2 separate regions of the Homo sapiens genome follow, and region 1 is linked to region 2. The links come from fine-mapping of genetic effects on gene expression. A gene starts in region 2. The other region holds a variant in brackets. All regions are shown on one strand. Distances are between the middles of the regions. Region 1 has its middle 23 kb from the start of AQP12B. Region 2 holds the start of GPR35 (G protein-coupled receptor 35).

The links. PIP is the estimated chance that this variant, and not a neighbour inherited with it, causes the effect.
Region 1: its variant is the best candidate, but not a certain one, in a credible set for the expression of GPR35 in tibial nerve (GTEx, PIP 0.67).

What each region holds. Positions count from the first base shown.
Region 1 is chr2:240,652,174-240,668,285 of GRCh38, reverse strand. No RefSeq gene overlaps it. Among named protein-coding and RNA genes, the nearest start is that of AQP12B, 23 kb to the left of the region's middle. RefSeq lists a silencer at 11,906-11,955. The variant C/T (reference allele first, on the strand shown) is at 7,291.
Region 2 is chr2:240,622,366-240,631,857 of GRCh38, reverse strand. It overlaps GPR35 (G protein-coupled receptor 35), which reads right to left and starts at 6,378. Exons shown (of 2, transcript NM_005301.5): 1 at 6,290-6,378; 2 at 1-1,909. The coding sequence starts at 1,905. The coding sequence ends at 976. RefSeq lists a silencer at 1,452-1,746 and enhancers at 5,918-6,424, 7,032-7,181.

The sequences.
Region 1 (16,112 bases), 33 kb before region 2:
AATTGGATCTTGTTTTTTTATCCTCACTGACAATCTGTCTTCTAATTGGTATATTTAGACCATTCACGTTCAACATGATCATTCATATAGTTGGATTAATATGTATCACATTTGTATCTGTTTCCATTCATTAATTTCACTTTTTTTTTTGTTTCTTCTTTTCACCACAGACACCTCTTTTTACCGTCTACTCTGGTTTTAATGAAGCATTTTATACAATTCCAATTTAGCTCCTCTATTAGGCCATCACTAGGGTATCAAAACAATATGTTTATATTTTTAAAAATTTTAGTGGTTGTCCTAGAGCTCCCAATATACAATTTTAACTAATGTAAGTTGAACTTTGAATAGCACTCTATTGCTTCATGTGAAGCATATGTACCTTAAGCAGAGCGTTTTCAATTCATTTCTATGTAAGTGTTCCCAATCTGTATGAGTCAAGACACAGATGGCCTGAATAGCACTAACAATCACCTTGATCTTACTGACATTTCTGGAATAACCCATCTAATGTGTAGGATATGCATTATTCTCAAACTCTCATGGAACACTCATCAAAGTAGACCACATTCTAGGCCATAAAACACACATAAACAAACATAAAAAATAAAAACACAAAGGATCTTTCAGACCACAGTGGAATAAAATTAGAAGTCAACAACAGTAAAATAGCTTTCCCCAAATATCTGAAAATTAAACAGCATAGTTTTAAATAGCACATGGATCAAAGAATTATTATCAAGATAAATGATAATTAATATTTTGAACTAAATGAAAATACCACTTATCAAAATTTGTGAGATGCAGGAAATGCAAAGCTTAGAGGAATATATAGCATTAAAATGCACATATTATAAAGAAAGAAGTATCTAAATTCAACAACCTAAGATTCCATCTCAGGAAACCAAAAAGAGAACAATTTAAGGCTAAAACAAGCAGAATAACAAAAATAATAAAAACTAGATCGGAAATCAATGAAACATACAATGGAAAAAAGTAGAGAAAATCACTGAAACCAAAAGCTTTTTAAAGGAGATCAATAAAATTGGCACAAACTTCAAGCCAGACTGCACCAGAAAAAAAGAGAAGACACAAATTACTAATATCAGAAATGAAGAAGGAATCATCACTACTGATTCTTTGGACATTAAAAGAATAATAAGGGAATACCATGACCACTCTATGTCTGCAAATTTCATAACTAAACAAAATGAACCAATTCCTTGAAATATCAAAAATCAAAAATCACAAAAAAAGAAAAAGATTATCTGAATTGCCATGTCTACATGTATATAATAAAGAAGTTGAATGAATAATTAATGATTTCAACAACAACCAAAAAACCACAGTACTTTCAGACAGTTTCACTGGTGAGTTCTACTAAACCTTTAAGGAAGGTAAAATTAATATTAATTCTCCATAATCTCTTCCAATAAAGAGAAGTAGAGAAAACACTTTTTACTCATTCTACGCTGCTAGCATTACTCTAACACCAAAGGAGACAAAGAAAACTACAAACCCGTATCTCTTATGAACATACACACAAAACTCCTCAACAAAATATCAAGTCAGATCCAACCATATAAAAAAATAAATTATATACTGCTACCCAGATATCCAAGGTTGTTTCAATACTTGAAAATTATTCTAATAACCATAGCAACAGGCTAAAGAAGAAAAATTATATGATTATATCAAATGATTTAGAAAAAGCATTTACCGAATCCTACATCCATTCACGAAAAATTCTCAGCAAATTAGGAATAGAGATGCTGTTTCTCAACTTGATAAAGCTCATCTACAAGCAAACTTACAGCTACAAGGAAACATCACACTTAATGGTGAGAAGCTGGTCACTTTCCCACTAAGATCACAAACAAGGCAAGGATGTCCCTGTTCACCACATCCACCCAACATTGCACTGGAATTCCTAGCATATGAAACAATACAAGAAGAAGAAATGAAAGGTATATATATTGGAAAGAAAGAAATAAAAATGAAGAAATAAAGGAGAGTAGTTATTTTTTACTAACAATGCTGAAACAAACAGAAGTCTATGTGAAAGTAAACCTAGACATGAGCCTAACACTTTCTCCCCAAATTAACCCAAAATGGATCATAGACGTCAGTGTAAAATGCAAAACTATAAAATGTCTAGAAGAAAACAAAGGAGGAATTCTGTGTGACCCTGTGATTGATGATGTTTTTGGATACTACTCCAAAAGCATAATTCATGAAAGAAAAATTAACTTTGGATATTAGATAAAATTTTCTGCCAGCAAAAGACATTGTTAACAAAATATAAAGACAGTTCATGGAATGGGAGAAAAATCTTCGCAAAATACATATCTGATAAAGGACTTATATTCAAACTATACAAAGAATTATTAAAATTTAGTAAGAAAACAACCCAAATTAAAAATGAACAAAAGACCAGAACAGACAACTAATCAGAAAAGATACAGAGATACCAAATATGCATATGGAAGTGCATATTTGTCAAATGTACATTTCCATATGCATATTTGATATATATAATTGCATAATTCATCATTAGAGAATTAAAAATTAAAATAATAACACACCTATTCGAATGGCTAAAATCCAACAACCTGATAATACCAAATGTTGATGAGCATGCAGAGCAATAGGAACTCTCACCCATTGATGGTGGGAATGCAACATAGTACCACCACTTTGGAAGATAGTTTGGCAGTTTCTTACAAAGCTAAACATAGTCTTATCATATGATCAGGCTATCACACTCCTAATGATTTTCCCAACTGATTTGAAAACTTTATGTCCACACAAAAACCTGCATGTGAATTTTCATAGCAGCTTCATTCATAATCACCAAAAATTAGAAGCAACAAAGATATCCTTCAACAGGTGAATGAATAAGCAAACTTTGGTACATCCATACAATGGAATATTATTCAGTAATAAAAATAAATTAGCTGTCAAGCCACAGAAAGACATGGAGACACCTTAAATGCATATTGATAAATGAAAGAAGCTAGTCTGAAAGGTGATATACTATACAGTGGTTATATAGCATATATCAATAATTATGATATAACATGGAAAATGTCAGTGGTTGTCAGGGATTTGAGGGGAAAGAAGAAAGTTAAAAAGGTGAAGCAAAGGAATTTTTAGGACAATAAATCTATTCTTTAAGTACTATATTCTGTATAATGCTATAATGGTGGATACTTGACATTATGCAATTCTCAAAATCCATACTACTTTACAGAATAAAAGATAAATGTTAACATATGCAAAATTTTAAAAAGTCATTTAGGAGGTTGGAGGCTCTCAGGAAAGAATGCAGACTATGACAAAAACATCTAACTGTATTACAAGTGTATAAAACAACCTCACTGAAGGGAGTGGAAAGAAAAGGTGCTCACCTAAGTAACCTTGGAAATGAGTGTTGCTGCAAGACTGAAGGCAAAGGACACTGCACATAAGCACTGTACTCTACCTGATAATGTCATTTCCCACAGGCGTGAGGGTGAACAATTCTTATGCCACTATATGTGTATGCTAAGGTTGGACAGTTAGGCTAATGGATGGCAGATGGTGGGTGCCAGGTTTCTTACTGGGTGGGATAAGTAAGGGAAGGAAACTAGAATAATCTACATGGTAATAGATTTGGAAACATCAAATGAAGTCATGATTACTTAGAGAAATATTTATAAATATATGTATATACATGGGATAGAATACACACATATATTTCCTCATTGTGTCAGCAGAGAGAGCCTAAACAAATCAGCACCTCAATAGCAACAAGCATACCCGGCTTCCAGATCTTGATTTCTTTTTTTTTTTTTTAGATGGAGTCTTGCTCTGTTGCCCAGGCTGGAGTGCAGTGGCGTGATCTCGGCTCACCACAACCTCCACCTCCCAGGATCAAGTGATTCTTGTGCCTCAGCCTCCTAAGTAGCTGGGATTACAGATGTGGGCCACTACACCTGGCTAATTTTTGTGTTTTTAGTAAAGACAGGGTTTCACCATGTTGGCCAAGCTGGTCTTGAACTGCCAACCTCAAGTGACCCATCCACATGGACCTCCCAAAGTGTTGGAATTACAGGTGTGAGCCACCATGCCCGGCCCAGATCCTGATTTCTAAGACCACTCTCCAATAAAAGGAGCCAAGATTTCTTGGAGAAATGGATGACTCTAGGACCGGGGCTAGAAATATAAAAGATGAGCCTAAAGCATCTTGTAGTGCCAGAAAGTTAGGAAGTGCTGGACACAAAAACCCACACTGGTGGCAGCACGTCAGAGAGACACAGGAGCCAACCGAAAGAGCTCCCCGGTGGCCAAGATTGGAATAGAGTTAACAAAACAAATAAAATAATATTTAATCATAGCCCAAAGTATAAAAAAAAATCCATGAATCCATGCTGATATAAATTAATTGTAGAATAAATAAGTTAATGGGGTAGAAGAAACAAAAGTCATGTGTGGAAAAATTCTAAATATTTTATGATGCTACTCTTCCCTCAAGGAGAGGAAGCATAACTTCCCACTCCTAAACTGTGGGTTGCACATGAAGACTTCCTTCTAAAGAATACAGTATGGAAAGGAGGGAGGGGAAATAGTCACTTTACAGTGGAGAAAACTCACCACACTACCTCAAGGTCAACATCAACAGGGATAAATGATGTTGATACGATGTCAATAGTATGTACCCTTGATATAATGTGACAAAAATGGTACTTTACTTCTGTAGTCTTCTCCCCAAAACCCATCATTTCAGTCTCATAATGAAAAAAGTCAGATAAATTCTAATAAAATTACATTTTACAACATACCTGAGCAGTTGCTCTGAGAGCCCCCAGCTAAACTGGGGTTCCAGTACCACAGCAGCTAGCAACCCTGCCCTAACAGAAAATGAAGAGGGTCTGGACATGGGTGTTTACGGTATCCTTTTTTTTTTTTTTTTTGAGATGGAGTTTTGCTCTTGTTGCCCAGACTGGAGTGCAGTGGTGTGATCTTGGCTCAGTGCAACCTCTGCCTCCCAGGTTAAAGCAATTCTCCTGCCTCAGTCTCCTGAGTAGCTGGAATTACAGGCATGCACCACCACATCTGGCTAATTTTGTATTTTTAGTAGAGACAGGGTTTCTCCATGTTGGCCAGGCTGGTCTTGAACTCCCGACCTCAGGTGATCTGCTCACCTCGGCCTCCCAAACTGTTGGGATTGCAGGTGTGAGCCACCGTGCCTGGCCTACGGTATCCTTTCATGGGCTACTTCTATCACCTGGAAGACAACCTAATACCTAGTGTCTGACCCGTGACCAGGGAGGTTCCTTGCACTGGAAACTTGTTTATACTGGCAGATAGCTTAGTGGCCCTTGTCTGACTCATGTCTAGCTTATGTCTGCCTGATCTTCATTCTGTGTCTGCCTGACCATCACTCTGATGCTGGGAGCCTGACCTTGTGTTCTTCTGGTGGAAGGTGCAAATTCAGTACACCACCACAATATGAAATATGTTCAAAGATTTATTACAAATAGATCTTGGACAGTAAGAGCACAGTTAGGAGGGAAGTCCTTCATCCTCCAGCCACTTGAAGTTCATGGGGAAATGTCTGAAAGGTTCATTTGAAAGAAGCCACAGGAAAGCAGGGAGCCCAGTCTGCTGGGTGTGGAAGATGCCTCTAAGTTCATTTTTGTTTGTTTGGTTTTGGTTTTGAAGATCTTGTTGCATACCAGACTTCTAAGTTCTTCTCTCTAGCCACTGGCTTCAACCATTTGGATGTTCTACTTCTAATGCCTAGGGAGCAAACATTGCTGTGGCATTCTCATTACATCAGCACTCCTCAAAACTGTCAAGGCCATCAAAAACAAGGAAAGCCTGAGAACCTGTCACAGCCAAGAAAAGCTTAAGGAGTCATGACAGCTAAATGTAATGTGATAGCCTGGATGACCTGCTGGAACCGAAAAAGTGTGTTAAATGAGACATAAATATAAACAAAAAAATAGATAAAAACTAAACTATCAGAATAAACTACCACGTTAGATAATGATCAATATTTGTACATCAATTGTAATAAATGTACCATATCGACATAAAATGTTAATGATAGGGAAAACTGGGTGCAGAAGATATAAACAAACAATTTATGTTGGCAGATTTGTGGCTCTTGTTCAACCCACGTCCAGTTTATGTCTCCCTGATCATCACTCTGGGAACTATTTGTACTATCTTCTCAACTTTTCCATAAATCTAAAACTATTTTTTAAAATAATTTCTATATAAAACAAACAAAACAGAAGGAAATACACCATGACAAAGTGGAATTTATTCCAAGTATGCAATACTGGTTTAAAATTAGAAAGTCAATTAATATAATCCATCACATCAACAGGCTAAAGAAGAAAAATTATGTCACAACAATAGGTGCAGAAAAAGCATTTGACAAAATCCAAAACCCATTCATAATTTAAAATCCTGAGTAATCTAAGAATAGAGGAGAAACTTCCTCAACTTGATAAAGAATATCTACAAAAAAAACCAAAAAACAACCTACAACTAATATTGTACATAATGGTGAGAAACTAGATTTCCTGCTAAGATCAGGAGCAAGGATGTCCCCTGTCAGCACTGCTTTTCTACATTGTACTGGAAGTCTTAGCTAATGTGATATCACAAGAAAAAGAAATAAAAAGTATATAGATTGGGAAGGAATAAATAAAATTCTTTATTTGCAGATGACATGATCATTTATGTAAAAAAAAAAAAAAAAAAAGGACAAAAAAAAACCCTCCTAGAACTAACAGGTGATGTAGTGTCCCCAGCAAACCTCTTGTTGAATTGTAATTCTCAGTGTTGGGAATTACAACAGTGGGGCCTGATGGGAGGTGATTGGATCATGGGGTAGATTCTTCATGAATGGTTTAGCACCGTCCCCCTGCCTTGGTTCTGTATAGTGAGTGAGTTCTCACAAGATTTGGTTGTTTAAAAGTGCGTGGCACACTCCCCTCTCGGTCCTGCTCCTGCCACGTGAGATGCCTGCTCCCGCCATGTGAGATGCCTGCTCCCGCCATGTGAGATGCCTGCTCCCGCTTTGCCTTCTGCCATGAGTTAAAGCTCTCTGAGGCCTCCCCAGAAGCAGATGCCACCATACTTTCTATACAGCCTGCAGAACTATGAGCTAATTAAACCTCTTCTTTATAAATTACCCAGTCTCAGGTATTTCTTTATAGCCGTGCAAGAACTGACTAATACAGGTGATTACAGCAAGGTTGCAGGATACAACATTAACATACAAAAGTTGGC[C/T]GGGCGCGGTGGCTCATGCCTGTAATCCCAGCACTTTGGGAGGCCGAGGCGGGCAGATCATGAGGTCAGGAGATCAAGACCATCCTGGCTAACACGGTGAAACCCCATCTCTACTAAAAGTAAAAAAAAATTAGTCGAGTGTGGTAGTAGTCCCAGCTACTCAGGAGGCTGAGGCAGAAGAATGGTGTGAACCCAGGAGGTGGAGCTTGCAGTGAGCTGAGATTGTGCCGCTGCACTCCAGCCTGGGTGACAGAGCAAGACTCCATCTCAAAAAAAAAAAAAAAATACAAAAGTCAATTGCTCTTCTATATACCAGCAATGGACAAGTGGAATGTGAAATTAAAGACATATTACCATTTACTTCAGCATCCCTCAAAAATTAAATACTTAGTTATAAAGCTAACAAAATATGTATATGACCTATATGATGAAAACTACAAAACTCTCATGAAATAATTTTTTAAAAACTAAAGAAATGGAGAGATACTTCACGCTCATGGACAGGAAGCCTCAATATTATTAAGATGTCACTTCTTCTCAACTTGATGTATAGATTCAGTACAACCCCAATCAAAATCCCAGCAAGTAATTTTGTGGATATCAACAAATAAATTCTAAAGTTTCTGTGGAGGCCAGGCACGGTGGCTCACGCCTGTAATCCCAGCAATTGGGAGGCCAAGGCGGGCAGATCGCTTGAGGTTAGGAATTCGAGACCAGCCTGGCCAACATGGTGAAACTGCATCTCTACTAAAATACAAAAAAATTAGCCAGGTGTGGTGGTGCTGAGGAGGCTAAGACAGGAGAATTGCTTGAACCCGGGAGGCGGAAGTAGCAGTGAGCTGAGATTGCACCAGTGCACTCCAGCCTGGACGACAGAGTGAGACTCCGTCTCAAAAATAAATAAATAAATAAATAAATAAATAAATAAATAAAGTTTATGTGGAGAGGCAAAGGACTCAGAGTATTAATACAATACTGAAGGAGAAGAACAAAGCCGGAGAACTTACTTGACTTCAAGACTCACTATGAAGCTACAGTAATCAAGGCAGCGTGGTACTGGTGAACAAATAGACAAAAGATGAATGGAACAGAATAGAGGCCCGTAATAGAAGCACATAAATATAGTCAATGGATCTTTGACAAAGGAGCAAAGGAAATACAGTAACAAAAAGATAATCCCTTCAACAAATGATACCGGAACAACTGGACATCCATGTGTAAAAAAAAAAGAATCTAGACAGACTTTACACTTTTCACAAAAATAAACTGAAAATGGATAACATCCTTAAATGTAAAACACAAAACTGTAGACCCTTAGAAACTAACATAGGAGAAATTCTAGAGGATCTTGGGTTTGGTGATGACTTTTTAGACACAACACCAAAGACAATAGCCATGAAAGAAAGAAAAGGTAAGTTAGACTTTGCTGAAATTAAATATTTCTGCTCTATAAGAGACATTGTCAAGAGAATGGAAATGCAAGCCACAGACAAGGAATGACATGTCTTTGCAAATGATGTATCTGATAAAGGACTCTCATCCAAAATATACAAAGAACTCCTAAAACTCGAAAATAAGAAAACAAACGACCCAATTAAAAGATGGGTCAAAGACCTTAACAGATACCTCAGCAAAGAAGATAAGCAGACAGTAAATAAGCATACGAAAAGATGCTCCACATCACATGTCATCAGGGAAATGAAACTTAAAACAACAACATGCCACTACACACTTATTAGAATGGTCAAAATCCAGAACACTGACAACACCAAACGCTGGTGAGGATGCAGAGCGACAAGAAGGCTCATTCACTGCTGGTAGGAATACACAATGACACAGCCACTTTGGAAGACAGCTTGGCACTTTCTTACGAAACTAAATATACTCTTACCATATGATGCAGCAATCATGTACCTTGGTATTTATCCAAAGGACTTGAAATCTCATGTCCACACAAAAACCTGCAAACAGACGTTTATAACAGCTTTATTCATAAATGCCAAAACTTGGAAGCAATCAAGATGTCCTTCAGTAAGTGAATGCATAAATTCAGACAATGAAAATAAGATTGACCTTAAGCAAGATTAAGCAAAAAGAACAAACCTGGGTAGATATCCAGTAGTGGGATTGCTGGATCAAATGGTGGTTCTACTTTTAGTTCTTTAAAGAATCTCCACACTGTTTTCCATAATGGTTGACCTAGTTTACATTCCCACCAGCGGTGTAGAAGTGTTCCCTCTTCACCACATCCACACCAGCATCTATTATTTTTGGATTTTTTATTATGGCCATTCTTGCAGGAGTAAGATGGTATCACATTGAAGAAATGAAGTCATTATACGAAAAAGATATTTGCACACGCATGTTTATAGCAGCACAATTCGCAATTGCAAAAACGTGGAACCAACCCAAATGCCCATCAATTGAGTGGTTAAAGAAACTGTGAAATATATATATATATATGGATGGAATACTACTCAGCCATAAAAAGGGATGAATTAATGGCATTCGCAGTGGCCTGGATGAGATTGGAGACTATTATTCTAAGTGAAGTAACTCAGGAATGGAAAACCAGACATTCTGTGTTCTCACTCAAAAGTTGGAGCTAAGCTATGACGATGCAAAGGCATAAGAATGACTCAAAGGACTTTGGGGACTCAGAGGGAAAGGGTAGGAAGGGGGTGAGGGATAAAAGGCTACAAATTGGGTTCAATGTATACTGCTCGGGTGATGGGTGCACCATAATCTCACAAATCAGCACTAAAGAACTTACTCATGTGACCAAACACCACCTGTTCCCCAGTAACCTGTGGAAATAAAAAATTTTTAAAAAATACTATTGGCATTAAAAAGAAATGAGCTATGAAGGCATGAAAAGACATGGATAAACCTTAAATGCATATTACTAAGTGAAAGAAGCCAATCAATCATATATTATGTGATTCAAATATATGACATTCTGGAAAAGGCAAAGCTATGGAGACAGTAAAGAGATCAGTGGTTGCCAAGGGATGGGGAAGGCGGAAGATGGATGAACAGGTGGAGCACAGAGGAGTTTTAGGTAGGATGCTCTATATGATACTGTCATAGTAAATACATGAGGTAGGATGCTGTATATGATACTGTCATAGTAAATACATGTCATTGTAGATTTGTCAAAACCCATAGAATGTACAACATAGAATGACCCTTAATGTAAGACATGGGCTTTGGGTGATAATGATATATCAATGTAGGTTCATTAATTGTAACAAACATGTCACATTGGTGATAGATGTGGGCAATGGAGAGGCTAGGCATGTGTTGGGGGGAGGGAGTATATGGGAAATCTCTGTATCTTCTGCTCAATTTTTCTGTGAACCTAAAATGGCTCTAAACAATAAAATCTATTAAAAATGAAGTTTATTTTAAAAATCAGAGGGAAAAAACAGTAAACAGAAAATAAAATGGCAGGATTAAGCCCTGTTATATCAGTACTTACATAAAATGTAAATGGACAAATATACCAATTTAAAGATATTGGCAGAATGGATACAAAAACATGATCCCGATACACGCTGTGTTTCAGAAACTCATTTCAACTGTAATTATTATATGATTAGGCTGAAGATAAAAGGATGGAGAAAGGTAGACCATGAGAACATGAACAAAATCAAGTAATCATGGCTCTATTAATACAGATAGAACCTTCAGAGCAAAGAAATTACCAGGGACAATTACTCATGTGCATGCAGCAAACAGAAGAACTGTACCATTATCCTTCCCTCACGGAAAGACTTGTATAATTATATGAGTTCTCCCCGACCCCCTCCTCCCCAGCTCCCCAGAAAAGCAGAGGAATCTCCCCAGCAGGGACCCTCCCTTGGCCCCTCATGTTCAGTGTGAGCACACACCAGCCCTTGGTGCCTATAGCTTCTTTCTTTTTGGAAAACCAGTGTTTCAATTGCCTGTTTCAATTCTTTCTCAAGCCATTGCTCTGAAGATGAGTGTGTTTCTTGATGTGAAGAAATGTAACTCAGCAGTGCACACTGGCATGAAAGCTTCTGTTCCAGCTCTTTTACAGCACTCTGTGTATTTGCATGTACCACTGGGCAAGCAAAGCCCAGCCCAGAGTCAGTGTCTGTTCCTTTCAGGACCTATTTGTAGGCTTCTGGGGCTACAGAATCAATTCTACTTGCCAGCTATGTGCAGGGCCTCCCCCTTACCCCCCTCTGCTTCCAGGTAAATCTGCCCTGCAGCCATCTGCAGTCTCTGTCTCTGTATCAGCAGATAGTTGCATCTCATGGCTCCGAGGGTGTGTTGAGGGGGAGGACATGTTTAGGCGCAGCCCTTCCCTGCGCCGCTGCAGCCTCCACATCCACGGCTTCCATGGGCCCTTGTGGCCATCCCAAGTGAATGCACCAGGACTCCCATTTGCCAGTTCCGATCACCTTCTGATCCTGGAAGGGGTTCTTCTGATGGATATTGTCATGTTCTACTTTAATGCACCCCTGAAACTCCCACGGTGATTTTCAAGGGGCCCTTTCTTTAATAGACTAGTTTTCCACTGGCTATCTGCAATCACATGGCCATGTCACCGGCCACCCCTTATGAGTCAGTAAAAACCCAAACAGGAAAACCACATGCAAGTCAGCCCACTGAGCTAGTTTGACTTTTCCTTCTTCAATCAGAGAATCATGCCTGTAATCTCAGCACTTTGGGAGGCAGAGGAGGAAGAATCACTTGAGCTCAGGAGTTTGAGACCAACCTGGGCAACATAGCCAGACCCCATCTCTAAAAAAAAATTTTAAAACTTAGCCAGGTGTGGTGGCGGGTGCCTGTAGTCCCAGCTACTAGGGAGGCTGAGGCAGGAGGATCACTCAAGCCTGGGAGTCTGAGGCTGCAATGAGCAGTGATCACACCACTGCACTCCAGCATGGGTGACAGAGCAAGACCCTGTCTCAAAACACAAACAAAAAAAACAAAACAAAACAGAGGGACAGCCTTCCAAACAGGATGCTCCCCATTCTGCCTGAACCTGCTGTCCATAAACCAAGCAGCTTCCTGCTGATCCGTTGGGCACTGTTTTCATGGTGACAGCATCTGGCAGCTCCTCAGAGGATTCCAACGTCCGTCCTCGGGGAAAAGAGGCTCTGCTCATGGGGTGATGAGCTCCTCCTACCTTCCCCCAGGAGCATGTACCTGTACCCGAATACATAAATTAAATAAAATTTCCATTTTATTCCGGAATTCTTTTGGGCACTGACCTCTCCATGGGAGTGTTTCTCTGGCAATGCTTAAGACATTCTGGGTATTTCAGGTTCTGGGGTTATTTTATGTCCTTCAGTCATAGGAACAGTCTTAATCAAAGCTCAGTAACCCGCAAATTGTCTCTCAAACAGAAATTTCCAGTCCAAAATCGCACTTCTCACTGCTGGATGGTGCTCACAGGCTTGACTGTGAGTCCTGGTCTGCCTCACACAGGGCTGGACCATACAGAGAATGTGTGCCTGCACTCCTGCTTCTAACAGGGCATTCATTCAAGTGGTAAGCCCTTTTTGTCCACCAGCTGTTTAATACTGTTTCAAATTAATGACCTCTGTGGGCTTAGACAACGTTATTGGCTCCATTTAGCATGCCCAGCCAATATTGGCTGAAAGGTAGATTTACCTGTTGATATGGTTGATATGGTTTGACTGTGTCCCCACCCAAATCTCATCTTGAATTGTAACTCCCACAATTCCCACATGACATGGGAGGAACCTGGTGGGAGGTGATTGAATGATGACAGCAGGTCTTTCTATGATAGTGAATGAGTCTCACGAGATCTGATGGTTTTAAAAATGGGAGTTTCCCTGCACAAGCTCTGTCTTTGCCTGCTGCCAACCACGTAAAACATGACTTGCTCCTCCTTGCCTTCTGCCAGGATTGTGAGGCTTCCCCAGCCATGTGGAACTGTAAGTCCATTAAACCTCTCTTTCTTTTGTAAATTGCCCAGTCTCAGGTAGGTCTTCATCAGCAGTGTAAGAATGGACTAATACACCTGTCTTCTGTTTTACATGTGACCTAAGGGAAGCATCTGCCAGCCAGATGCAGTATCTACCCCCATGACACATTCAGGTGCAGCAGGTGCAACCACATCACATAAAATCTGCTCAAACATTCCGATATTCATCGGAACTTTCACCTTCATCCCATCAACCTTTGCTTCCTGCACCCTCCCACCCCAGCTGTAGCTTCTACAGAGACTTCACCAACAGGTTTGGAATCACAGTAGGAGAACAGCCTGTTGCTGTGTATTTATCTCGAAGCAAAAACACCATGATGACCAGTGTTTGATCCCCACATACCAAGGTGTTCTGCAGTAGGGTCTGTAGACATTGCCTGCAGCAGAGAGAACCCTTCAAAAAGACGTCTATCTAACCTGCTCAGTGGACACACGTCTTGGCAAGAATGTCCGAAGATATGACCAGCTGCACACGTTCTATCACACAAGCTTGCTAGATAAAGGATACTTTCTGGCCTGATGTGAGTGACTCACACCTGTAATCCCAGCACTTTCAGAGGCTGAGGCAGGCGGATCACTTGAGGTCAGGAGTTTGAGACCAGCCCGGCCAACATGGTGAAACCCCATGTCTACTAAAAATACAAAAATTAGCCAGGTGTGGTGGCACATGCCTGTAATCCTAGCTACTTGGGAGGCTGAGGCAAAAGAATCACTTGAACCCAGAAGGCAGAGGTTGCAGTGAGCTGAGATTGCACCACTGCACTCCAGCCTGGGTGACAGAGGGAGATTCCATCTCAAAAAAAAAAAAAAAGATGCTTTCTGGAGGGCAAGTGGCTCACAGCCCCTTGAGACGTGGCTTCTGTTCATAAGTCCCTATTTTTTTTTTTTTAAGATGGAGTCTCGCTCTGTCGCCCGGGCTGGAGTGCAGTGGCGCAACCTCGGCTCACTGCAAGCTCCACCTCCTGGGTTCACGCCATTCTCCTGCCTCAGCCTCCCGAGCAGCCAGGACTACAGGTGCCTGCCACCACACCTGGTTAATTTTTTGTACTTTTAGTAGAGACAGGGTTTCACGTGTTAGCCAGGATGGTCTCGATCTCCTGACCTGGTGATCCACCTGCCTCGGCCTCCCGAAGTGCTGGGATTACAGGCGTGAGCCACATAAGTCCCTATTCTATATTTCTTTCTGAGAAGCTGTATTTGTCAGCTTCTTTCTTCGGCCTCTCAGCTCCTGGGGCCTTTGCGGGTAGGTTTGCACTGACCTGCTCACCATGGAGCAATCTCAGTGCATGGGGCTCTCGTGTTGAGGAGTCCCAGAAACATTTCTTCTCCATCCCCTGAGCATTTTACCCACTCATGGGTGTATAGCATTGGGTCCCCAGCCAGGGGTCAGGCCAAAGGATGCCTGACCCTCTCATCAATCAAGCCCTTATCTTGATTGGATTGCAGGAGCATCACTCTAGGTGACTGGAGGCCAACTTGCTCATGGTCACCTTTGCCTTCTAATGTTTTCTATTTCTCCAAACTGGATGAACATAGGTTTAGGCCCTTTAGTTTGGGGCACACAGGAGCTCCCAGCAGTTCCAGTTTCTGAGAGTGCTGCCGTAAGAGTGTTGTTTTAACCCCATTAATGTCTGCTTTGCTCTGCCCATGTCTGTCTGTCTTTCTTTCTTTCTTTCTTTCTTTCTTTTTTTTTTTTGATGGAGTTTTGCTCTTGTCACCCAGGCTGGTGTGCAATGGCGTGATCTCAGCTCACTGCAACCTCCGCCTCCTGGATTCAAGTGATACTTGTGCCTCAGCCTCCCGAGTAGCTGGGATTACAGGCTCCCACCGCCACACCTGGATAATTTTTGTATTTTTAGTAGAGACGGAGTTTCACCATGTTGGTCGGGCGGGTCACGAACTCCTGATCTGGGATTAGAGGCGTGAGCCTCCGCGCCCAGGCTTATTATTATTATTTTAATTAGAGATGAGGTCTTGCTATGTAACCAGGCTGGTCTCAAACTCCTGGCCTCAAGCGGTCCTCCCACCTCAGCCTCCCAAAGTGCTGGGATTACAGGCATGAGCCACTGAGCCCGGCCATGTTCTTTCCATTTCTTAATAACTGTTGAAGGATGTTCACCTGCTGGGATGGGCTCCTTCACTCTCCCACCTGACTTTCCTCATTCTTTTGCAAAGCAGTCTGAATTTCCCCACAATCTGTTGTTTCCACACAACTTTTTCCTTTGGCCCTGAGGCCAGCGACTATAGCTTGGACCTCCCAGAACCCAGGATTGGTGCAATGTCAGGATTCAGCCCAACATCTTCCTTACCTTTCCCTCTAACCTTCCCATCGGTCATGGCCCCAAGGCAACCACCTCGGCCTCACTACCCATTGGCTCAGGCTCAGAACCTCTCTCTTGCTTTCATTTCAGCTTTTACAGAAACAATAACTCACAGTGGACCCATATGAAGTGCCACTAGTGATGCTGGAAGTGCCCAAGAAGCAGAGAAAAGTCATGACATTACAAGAAAAAAGTTGAATTGTTGGATACGTACTGAGGTCTGCAGGTGCGGTTGTGCCATTTCAGAGAGACAATTCATCTTGTAAACAGATGACAGAAAACTTAATGATATTGATAAATACAGTACAGTACTGTAAATGTATTTTCCCCTCTTTATGATTTTCTTAATAATAGTTTATTTTCTCTAGCTTACTTTATTGGAAGAATACAATTTATAATACCTATAACATACCAAATAAGTGTTAATTATTTATGTTATCAGTAAGGCTTCGGGTCAACAGCGGGCTGTTAGTAGTTAATAGCCTACTGTTGTGTCTCCGTGGTAATAGCCTATC
Region 2 (9,492 bases):
ATGCAATATGGGATGACAGGATGGGGTTTGAGCCCAGGCCGTGCTGGCCCACACTCACAGGAGGTCTCTGGAGTGCCCTGTCCTTCCAGCTTGGGTTTCGAGATGCCCTCCATGCAGGAGTACAGGAGAGGCAGAAACCAGCAGGACATCGTGCCTTTACCTGAGTGGGCACCCAACCCCTGCCCCTGCCAGACATGGTTTCCAGCCTTTCCCTGAAGGAAGGAGAAGAGGGCTGGGTTCCTTGACAGACCCTGGCCACCCCCTTCACTGCCACCCACCCCAACCCACCCTCACCTGCTTGACCTTGGTCACCCCCCCTTGCACCGCTGTGCAGCCCCTACATGGAGATCAGCTGCTCCCAGCCCTGTCTTGAGCAAGGAAACCTGGGCTGGGGGCCTCTACTGTGGTCCTGCCAGGAGCTTCCAACAGCCCCTGCTCACGCTCCAGGTGGGTGGGGGTGGGAAGGGGTGAAAGGGTCCAAGGGGGACCTCAAAGTGAAGAGCCCCGAAGGGTCCCTGGAAGATGTCCGCCAGCCCTCTGAGCCACGCGCTCCCTCCCTGCCTCCCACCACACGAGTGCGAAACACAGAGGGCCCCACTAGGACTGACTCTGGGTGGGGAGTTTTATTCCAGCCCCGAGGGGCAGCGGCAGGTGTCATCAAGGCTGCACCCTGGCCAGCAGGAACCCACTCTGGCCAGGTGAGCTGGTTCTGGGGGTGGCAAGTGTGAGGCCCCATCCCGGGGGTCTCTGACATTGGCCTTGCTCTGGCCTCAGTCCTCTTGCCCTTGTCCCTGTCCCTCTCTCTTCCCAAGAGAGCAGGTACCTGGGCCGTCCCTGCCCACCCAAGGCTCCAAGAGAATACACAGTGAGTTCAGGGCTGATCTCGGGCTCCTTGCTACTGGTTCCAGCTTCCCCTGGCAGGCAGCACCTCCCGGAGCCCCCGAGACCTGGCCCACAGCGCCCACAGCACGCCTCTTAGGCGAGGGTCACGCACAGAGAGTCCTGGCTTTTGTGGGCCTTAGCACTGGGAGCCACGGCCAGTGCAGACGCCTCCTGGAACTCCTTGGCCATGTAGTAGTAGCAGATGGCGTCCAGGCAGCAGTTGGCATCTGAGAGCTTGCTGGTTATGTACAGGGCGCGACGGATCGTCTCCAGGAGGGCACAGGCGTTCCAGCCCACTGCGAGGCGCACTGTCAGCCCCACGTGCAGGGGCAGGAAGCAGACCACGAACACCAGGAGGTTGGCCCAGACCATGCGGGCAGCCTTGCGGGTGGCCTCTGCCTGCCCCACGTCGGTGGGTGGCCTCTGGGCCAGGGCAGTCACCACCTTCAGGGAGCAGAAGACCACCACGGCCAGGGGCAGGTAGAATCCCAGCAGCGGGAACGCCATGGAGTTGAAATTGTGCCGGGTGCTCCTGAAGCAGAAGCCGCCCTCCTGAATCCCCAGGAGCCAGCGAGCCACCAGGGAGCCGATGACCAGCACCCAGAGGACCGCGCACACGGCCGCAGCCTGCCTGGGGGACCGCAGCCCGCGGGCACGCAGCGGGTGCCGCACGGCCACATAGCGGTCCACGGCGATGGCCGTGACCAGGCTGATGCTCATGTACCTGTTGGTCAGGTAGATGCCCTGGGAGAGCTGGCACAGCGGCGTGTCTGAGGTGTCTCGCAGGGAGTGCAGCACGAAGGGCAAGGTGCACAGCAGGCAGAGGTCGGCCACCGCCAGGTTGGTCATGTAGATGCGGGTCTCCGTCCACTGCTGCATGCGGCAGCAGAACACCCAGAGCGCCAGGCTGTTGAGCAGCAGGCCTAGCACCAGCAGGACGCCCAAGTAGGCGTAGAAGCCCAGCTTGATCGCTGGGGGCCAGGTGAGGTCGCTGGAGCCACAGGTGTTGTAGGTGCCATTCATGGTCCTGGGGCAGCACAGGGAGCCGGAGGTCAGCAGAGAGTGAGCAGGGGGAGCAAGGCACTGCCCCCACTCTGCCCACCTCTGGGCAGGGATGTGGGAGGAGGTGAGCCCCGACCCCACACCCACAAACACAAAACTCCTCAAAGAAAGCATGGGTGCCGTAAAGAACTCCAAGTCACCCTTGAGGTCTAACCCCTGGACAGATCCTCTTCCCATCTCCTGAGCTCTTCTCTCCTGGGATCTGCCTGCTGTCATGGGGCAGGAAAGGAGGCAGAAGGAGCTCCACGTTCCCCTCCAGTCCCCAGCCCAGCAAGCCCTACCCTCCAGAGCGCAAATCCTGGACAGGGAGCCCAAAGGGCCACCAGCCTTACCCAGCACACAGCTCTTAGCAGGGAGGGCTCAGAGGCAGCAGCACCTGTCAGCCCAAGGACGGGAAGACCAGGCTCCCGGACAAAGCCCAGGGTGGCCCCTCCACCCCTCCTGGCACCCGGCTGCAGGAGGCACCCACATTTGACTCCACACCTGCATCAGCCCTTCCCCACAGCAGAGTCCAGGACAGCTGGGACTCTGGCCTGCCCCTACCTCCCTGTGAGCCCACCCACCCAGTCCTGAGCTCTGGAGGTCCTGCCTGCATCAGCCTGAGGCCCCATCCCAGTCCCACACCTGGGATCAGGGATTCACCCCTTGAGCTCCCAGGGGCCAGAGCCTGTGACGGCAGCCCTGCCCCTTCAGGCCCAGTCGTGCTGCTCAGGGGCCGCCCAGGGGTGGAGCTGAGTATCCTCCTCTCCGTCACTATCAGGACCACCCACAAAGTCACCCCTCCACTGTCCACGCCAGCCTCTCGCTGTCCCCAACACCCTCCGCGACATAGCCCAGGAAGGCTGAGACCAGCCCCGGCTGGACCTGGGCAGGGTCTGGTGTCCAGGACACGGGCTAGAGTCATCCTGACTCGGCCACCCCTGCAGCTGGGCAAACTTGTTTCCTCATCATAAGGGGTGCTGGTGTCACACGCAGGCAGGTGTGAGACGGAGCTGCTGGTGAGCGCCCAGAGTCCAGGACTCACAGCCACACGTCCCACCACCTGGGTTACTCAGTGGGTCCAGGAAGAACCCGGAGGGGTGAGGGCGGGAGAAGCCTCTCCCCCAACCATCAGGCTGTCCTCTGGGGCATCCTGCAGTGGCTTCCTGCTGGGCTGGTATGGAAGGTGGGAAGGACTCAGCCCACAGCGAAGGGCCTTCCTCCTCCCTCTGCCTCCTCCCTCTGCCCAGAGGAGCACAAAAGGTCCCCCAAATCAGGAGGGGAGAGCGCCCAAACCCCGTGACTGCAGCTGCTGGGGACCATTAGTGCTGGGACGCATTTCCCCACGGTGGTCCCCGGGAACTCCAGGTCCCCAGTCCATGAGGGATGGAGGGCACAGGTTTCAGACAGAAACGAAACATTCTGCCCCCTGGCTTCATTCTGTCTCCTTAGATCCCACCTCTGGTGAAGTACAGCAGATATTTGCTGACTTCCAAGTTTCAGGAGCCCTTCCCCCGAGTGCAAAGTGCTGCACGCCCAGTGGTCTCTCTCCTCCCTTCTTGAGGGTCCTGCTTGCTTTCTCTCTGATTCATGAGCAACACTTCACCCTCGTTCCAGGGACTTTTGGAGGGACCCTGAGCCAGGCCAGGCTCCGAGGACATCCCCAGAACCCACTGGAACCAATCGCTGGGATCTTCCCTTCCTGTTGGGCCTATACTCCTGTGGCAGCCCCCGCTGGGGGCCAGGAGATCCCAGAACCTGCTCAGAATCTACACCTCAGAGGCACCTGAGCTGGGCAGGCACTGTGCGTTGGGGAGGGCTCCGTGCGACTGGCCTCCTACTCTCCCCACCTGAGTACTTGAATCCACCAGAAGTCCAGGGCCAGCCTTGGGCGGTGTGCAGACCTGGAGGGGGAGGGGGTCTGCACAGCTAGAGGGCGATTCTTTTGCTGCCCCACCTTGAGTAGAGGCAGCCTGGGACCCTGCCTCGTGGGAGGTGAGGACCCGAGGGCTCGTGTGCCTAGACCCCTTCCCATTGCCCCAGCTTCCCCCATCGCTCCCCATGGCTGCCAAGGGGCTCTCAGGTCACACATACCCAGGGCTGCAACTTTCATACTAGCCTCGGTGTGGCCCAGTATTTTGTGGGGGAATGTTTAACTGCAGGCAGGCACGGTGGCTCATGCCTGTAATCCCAACACTTTGGGAGGCTGAGACAGGAGGATGACTTGAGGCCAGAAGTTTAAGAACAACCTGGGCATCACAGGGAGACCCCGTCTCTACAAAAAAAAAAAAAAAAAAAAAAAAAAAGACAGAAAATTAGCTGGGCTGGTGATGCGTGCTACTCGGGAGGCTGAGGCAGGAAGACGGCTTGAGCCCAGGAGGTTGAGGCTGAAGTGAGCTATGATCCCACCACTGCACTCCAGCCTTAGGAGACAGAGTGAAACCCCATCTCTAAGAAGAAGAAAAAAACTCTAACTACAACATTTAAATTTTCCTGTTTATAATAAAACAAACACTGAACTATTAGGGAGAAAAATGCAAATGTTGCAAGAGTTTCGAGGTGCACGTAGGCTTCGAAGAAGTGCCCTGTTCATGGGTCCTTGTCTCGCCCGTGGAGTGCCTCCCAGAAAAGTTCAGGAAATCAAGGCCCAGGCTTTAGCCCAGATGGCATGGGGCCCCTGGGAGCTAACATGGCCAGCACAGATGCCCACCTACTGCCCCAGTCCCGCACAGGAATCTGTGTCCAGGCCGTGGACCGTAGCTGGCCTCCCGCCTCAGCTCCTCAGGCCTGTCTTCCTCGACAGACACCAGCACCATCAGCCTCAGGGAGCTCCCGCTGCCGGGGACCGTGGGGATGGGGCCCTTCCACTTCCTGCCCAGGAGGCTTTGGGGATTGGAGCCAGCAGCACGCCTCTGAGGCCCCGCTTCCCCTTCTGATGACAAGGTCACCCTCGGCTTCTGCACACAAAAGCAGAAAAGTGCCCTTTGATTCTGCACTGAGTGATCCAGGAGAGAAACCTGGCCATAGACGGGCGATCCAGCCACACCAGAGCCCCTCCCCAGCCCTTCCCCCTGTCTGGACCCGGGACCCGCCCAGACCCCAGAGTGCCTGGCTGGCCTGGGATTGAGACCACAGGCCCCAACCACTGCTGAAGACGTGGGGGCACGCAGTGAGGTGCAGATCCCTGTGGCCCAGGCACCAGAGTCCCCCGTACCTGTGACCCCACTGGGCCTGGGCCCCACACAGCACACCACACCCCAGGACCCAGGATGGGGCTGTGAGTGACACGAGTTCACCAAAGTAGCTGCTCACCTCGGGGCCACAGCACGGGGTATTCTTCATTCTTGTTTTTAAATGTCACATCCCACACTCCAACAAGCTGCTACCCAGACACAGGCTCCAAGTCTTCATCAGCCTCAGCCACCCCTGAGACCCCAACAGCCTCAGCCCACCTGAGACCCCAACACAGCCTCACCTCACTGAGACTCCCCATCACAGCCTCACCCCACTCTGAGACCCCATCACAGCCTCACCCCACTCTGAGACCCCATCAGAGCCTCACCCCACTCTGAGACCCCGTCACAGCCTCACCCCACTCTGAGACCCCGTCACAGCCTCACCCCGCTCTGAGACCCCATCACAGCCTCACCCCGCTCTGAGACCCCCATCACAGCCTCACCCCACTCTGAGACCCCCATCACAGCCTCACCCCACTCTGAGACCCCGTCACAGCCTCACCCCGCTCTGAGACCCCATCACAGCCTCACCCCGCTCTGAGACCCCCATCACAGCCTCACCCCGCTCTGAGACCCCCATCACAGCCTCACCCCGCTCTGAGACCCCGTCACAGCCTCACCCCACTCTGAGACCCCCATCACAGCCTCACCCCACTCTGAGACCCCATCACAGCCTCACCCCACTCTGAGACCCCATCACAGCCTCACCCTGCTCTGAGAACCCATCACAGCCTCACCCTGCTCTGAGAACCCATCACAGCCTCACCCCACTCTGAGACCCCATCAGAGCCTCACCCCACTCTGAGACCCCCATCACAGCCTCACCCCACTCTGAGACACCCATCACAGCCTCACCCCACTCTGAGACACCCATCACAGCCTCACCCCACTCTGAGACCCCATCACAGCCTCACCCTGCTCTGAGACCCCCATCACAGCCTCACCCCGCTCTGAGACCCTGTCACAGCCTCACCTCGCTCTGAGAACCCCCGTCACAGCCTCACCCCACTCTGAGACCCCATCATAGCCTCACCCTGCTCTGAGACCCCATCACAGCCTCACCCCACTCTGAGACCCCCACCATGCCCCTGCCCCGCTGGGAGGCCCCTAGGGCAGTGGGCGGCACTGACCTGCAGGCAGCTTTGGCCTCCCGGGTGGAGTGTGTGACCCCCGCTGCCAAAGCCTGCACAGTGGCTGTCTGAGAAGGGCTGGGGGAAGTGAAGCTGGGGTGAGCCACCCCTCAGGGCTGGTCCCTGACTCTGCCCCTCCTTAAGGTGGGGGGGCGGGCGGCTGACTGACGGCAGCAGGTCAGGGGTAACAGGAGTTCCCCACTGCTCCTGCACCAGCCCCAGCTAGAGGGCGTGGGGGATTTCTGGGAGGGAAGTGGGGTGCCGGCTGCCTGTGCTGACACCTCTGAAGAGCCAGCATCCTTGCTGAGGGCACACATTTGTTCTGGAAACAGCGTGAGAGACAGACAGCAAAACCAGAGACGCTCCAGCCCCGCCCACGGAGCCTTCCTCCTCCCCAGCCCACTTCTGCCCTGTCATCTCGGAAACCTTCCCAGGGCCCAGCCCTCCCAGGGTCTGCGGTCAGCTCGCCCTCCCCAGCGCCTCATGCCCAGCCCCAAGACAGGGTGCAGCACGCACACTCATCCTGGTTCATGCAGACACGCTCCGTGGGCGCCTTCCAATACACACACACACGCTGGCACACATGCACACACACATGCACACGCCAATGCACACAGGTGAGAGGCACACGCAGGCAGGCTGGCTCCTCCCCTGCTTCCCCCCGACTTGGCCACCGGCCCCTCCTCCAAGCCCACCCCCTCAGAAGCCTACCCAGACCACCCCTATCTGGTCTAGAATATTCTCCCTGGCCCCCAACTCCTCAGCGGACATCTTCCTTCTGAGCTCATGGTGGGGGAGCCCGTAGGCCCAGGCTGCGCCCCCATGGTGCAGAGCACCCCCTTCCTGGGCCCTGTCCACCCTGAGGGCAGGAGCCTCGTCTCCTCAACGTGGGCCCCACAGCCCCTGACCACAGCCTCTCCCTCCTCAACGGCTGGGATAGGCTGGGGAGAGCTTCAGTTTCACCCCTCCCCACTTTACAGCGGTGGAAACGGACGCCCAGGGAAGGGAAGCGCTTGGCCCAGCGTCACACAGGTGGTGGCAGGTCTGAGACCAGTGCCTGGGCCTCCTGAGCCAGACCAGGGCTCTCTACCCAGAGGCACGTGAGGAAGCCCTGGCTGGGCATTGGTCCTTCTCTGCTGTCATCCCGGGCCTGGTTCCTGTCCCTTTCTTCCTGCTTCCTCCTGCTGTCCTTCCTGCCCTTCCTCCTGCTTCCCCGGCTGTCCCTCCAGGCCCAGTCCCCAGTGTGCGCCCTTGGGTTCCCTGCCCAGTCTCCATGGGCCATGATGTTCATTGGAGAGGGGCCTCATCCTCGGGCAGGAGGCTCAGATTTGGGATTTCATCCATCCCTCACTCTGGCCACAGGGTCTGGCCTCTGGGGTCAGCAGAAGGCACGGCACCTGATCAGTCCAAGCCCGGCCGCCGTCAAGCAGGGACTGGAGGTGCAGGGCACGGCATCTCCCAGGAGTGCTCCTTCCACCTCTGGCAGATCAGATGGTGCCCCAAGCAGGCCTACCCAGCCCACCAGAGCCAGGGCCCTGCAGAGCTCCCCCACCCCCCCCACCACCAGGCCAGCCATGAACTCCACCGTGCCCCCTCTGCTGGGCATCACTCCTCCCCAGCAGTGGCCTGGGGCACCCCGTCCCCACCAGGCCTGGCCTCCCTGACGTGGCCTGGCACCTGTGCTCCTCACACACTGGAAGGGAAGCCCCACTGGGCAGGGCCACATGGTCCCAGCGGATTCTTCTGGGCTGTGTGGACTTGGGGAAGAAACTGGACATTTAGAGACTCTGACTGTCTCTGGGAAGGGCCCCTTGCCACCAGGTTCCACCTGTGTACAGGAAACGCTGTCCCCAGCCCACCCCCTACCTCTCTCCATCTGCCCCTTGGCTGTCTCCGCAGGCACTTCAGGGCAGTCCCACCCAGCCTGGAGCCTGGGCCCTCGTGCTCTGCCCCCTCCCACTCAGGCAGGCCTTGCCCGGGCCCCTCCAGAGCGCTGTTTCTCTCCTAGCTCCCCGCTCACCCCCAGGGCCCCTCTCTCCCCAAAGCTGCACCCTCACGACCTGTTTGCACCCTCACGACCTGTTTGCGCCCTCACGACCTGTTTGCACCCTCACGACCTGTTTGCGCCCTCACGACCTGTTTGCGCCCTCACGATCTGTTTGCGCCCTCACGACCTGTTTGCGCCCTCACGACCTGTTTGCGCCCTCACGACCTGTTTGCGCCCTCACGACCTGTTTGCGCCCTCACGACCTGTTTGCGCCCTCATGACCTGTTTCCAGCCCTTCACCCTGTTTGATTTTATCACAGAACTTATTTTTTAAGTAACCCTTTCTGCGCACTGGGCTTGTGCTTGTGGGACTCTATCTGCTTCCTGCCCTGTCGGGGCCCTGGCACAGAGCCCGGCCTCTGTGAAGCTCGACGACCGCTCACCCACAGCGACTCCGGCCGCGGGGCTGCGAGTGCCGGGGACATATCAGGTGCTCAGTCGTCGTCGGCGCCCGGCTCAGGCACGGTCGCCTGGGGTCCTCTGCTGCTGCTCAGGCCCTTCTTCGAGGACACCCGGAGTCCCCAGGTTCGAGAGGCCAGATGGCAGGTTTCCAGTCCAGGCCAGGCCTGTTCTCTCCCTGCTGGGCAGCTTCAGACCACCTGGCCCTCTGCGGAGAACTGGCAGCCAGGGTCCTGCTGTGGGCACGGGGGCACTGCCCGGGGCCCTCCGCCCCCAGCCTCTGCTCCTGGGCAGCTTCCTCTCCGAGGCTGCCCCCTCACCCCCAAGGTTAGCCCCCTGCAGCAGCGCCAGCCCCTCCCACTTCACCCCGCTGGGCTGTATGTGTGACGCGAGGAGCTCCGAACAGGATTCCTTCCTGCCCCTCCTCCTGCTTCTCCAGCTAGAGCTGCCGGACGCCACCCCTGCAGCCCTATCTAGGGGAGCCTCTGCAGCAAGCTTGTCCAACACTCGGGCTGCGGGCTTTGAATGTGGCCCAACACAAATTTGTAAACTTTCTTAAAACATTATGAGATTTACGCAGAGACCTTTTTTTGCTCATCAGCTATCGTGAGTGTTAGTGTATTTCATGTTTGGCCCAAGGCAATTCTTCTTATTCCAATGCGGCCCGGGGAAGCCAAAAGATTGGACAGCCCTGCTTTGAAGGGAAGTCTGTGAGGCGATGTCAGGGAAGCAGGAGCCTGGGAGAGCCAGAGAAAAG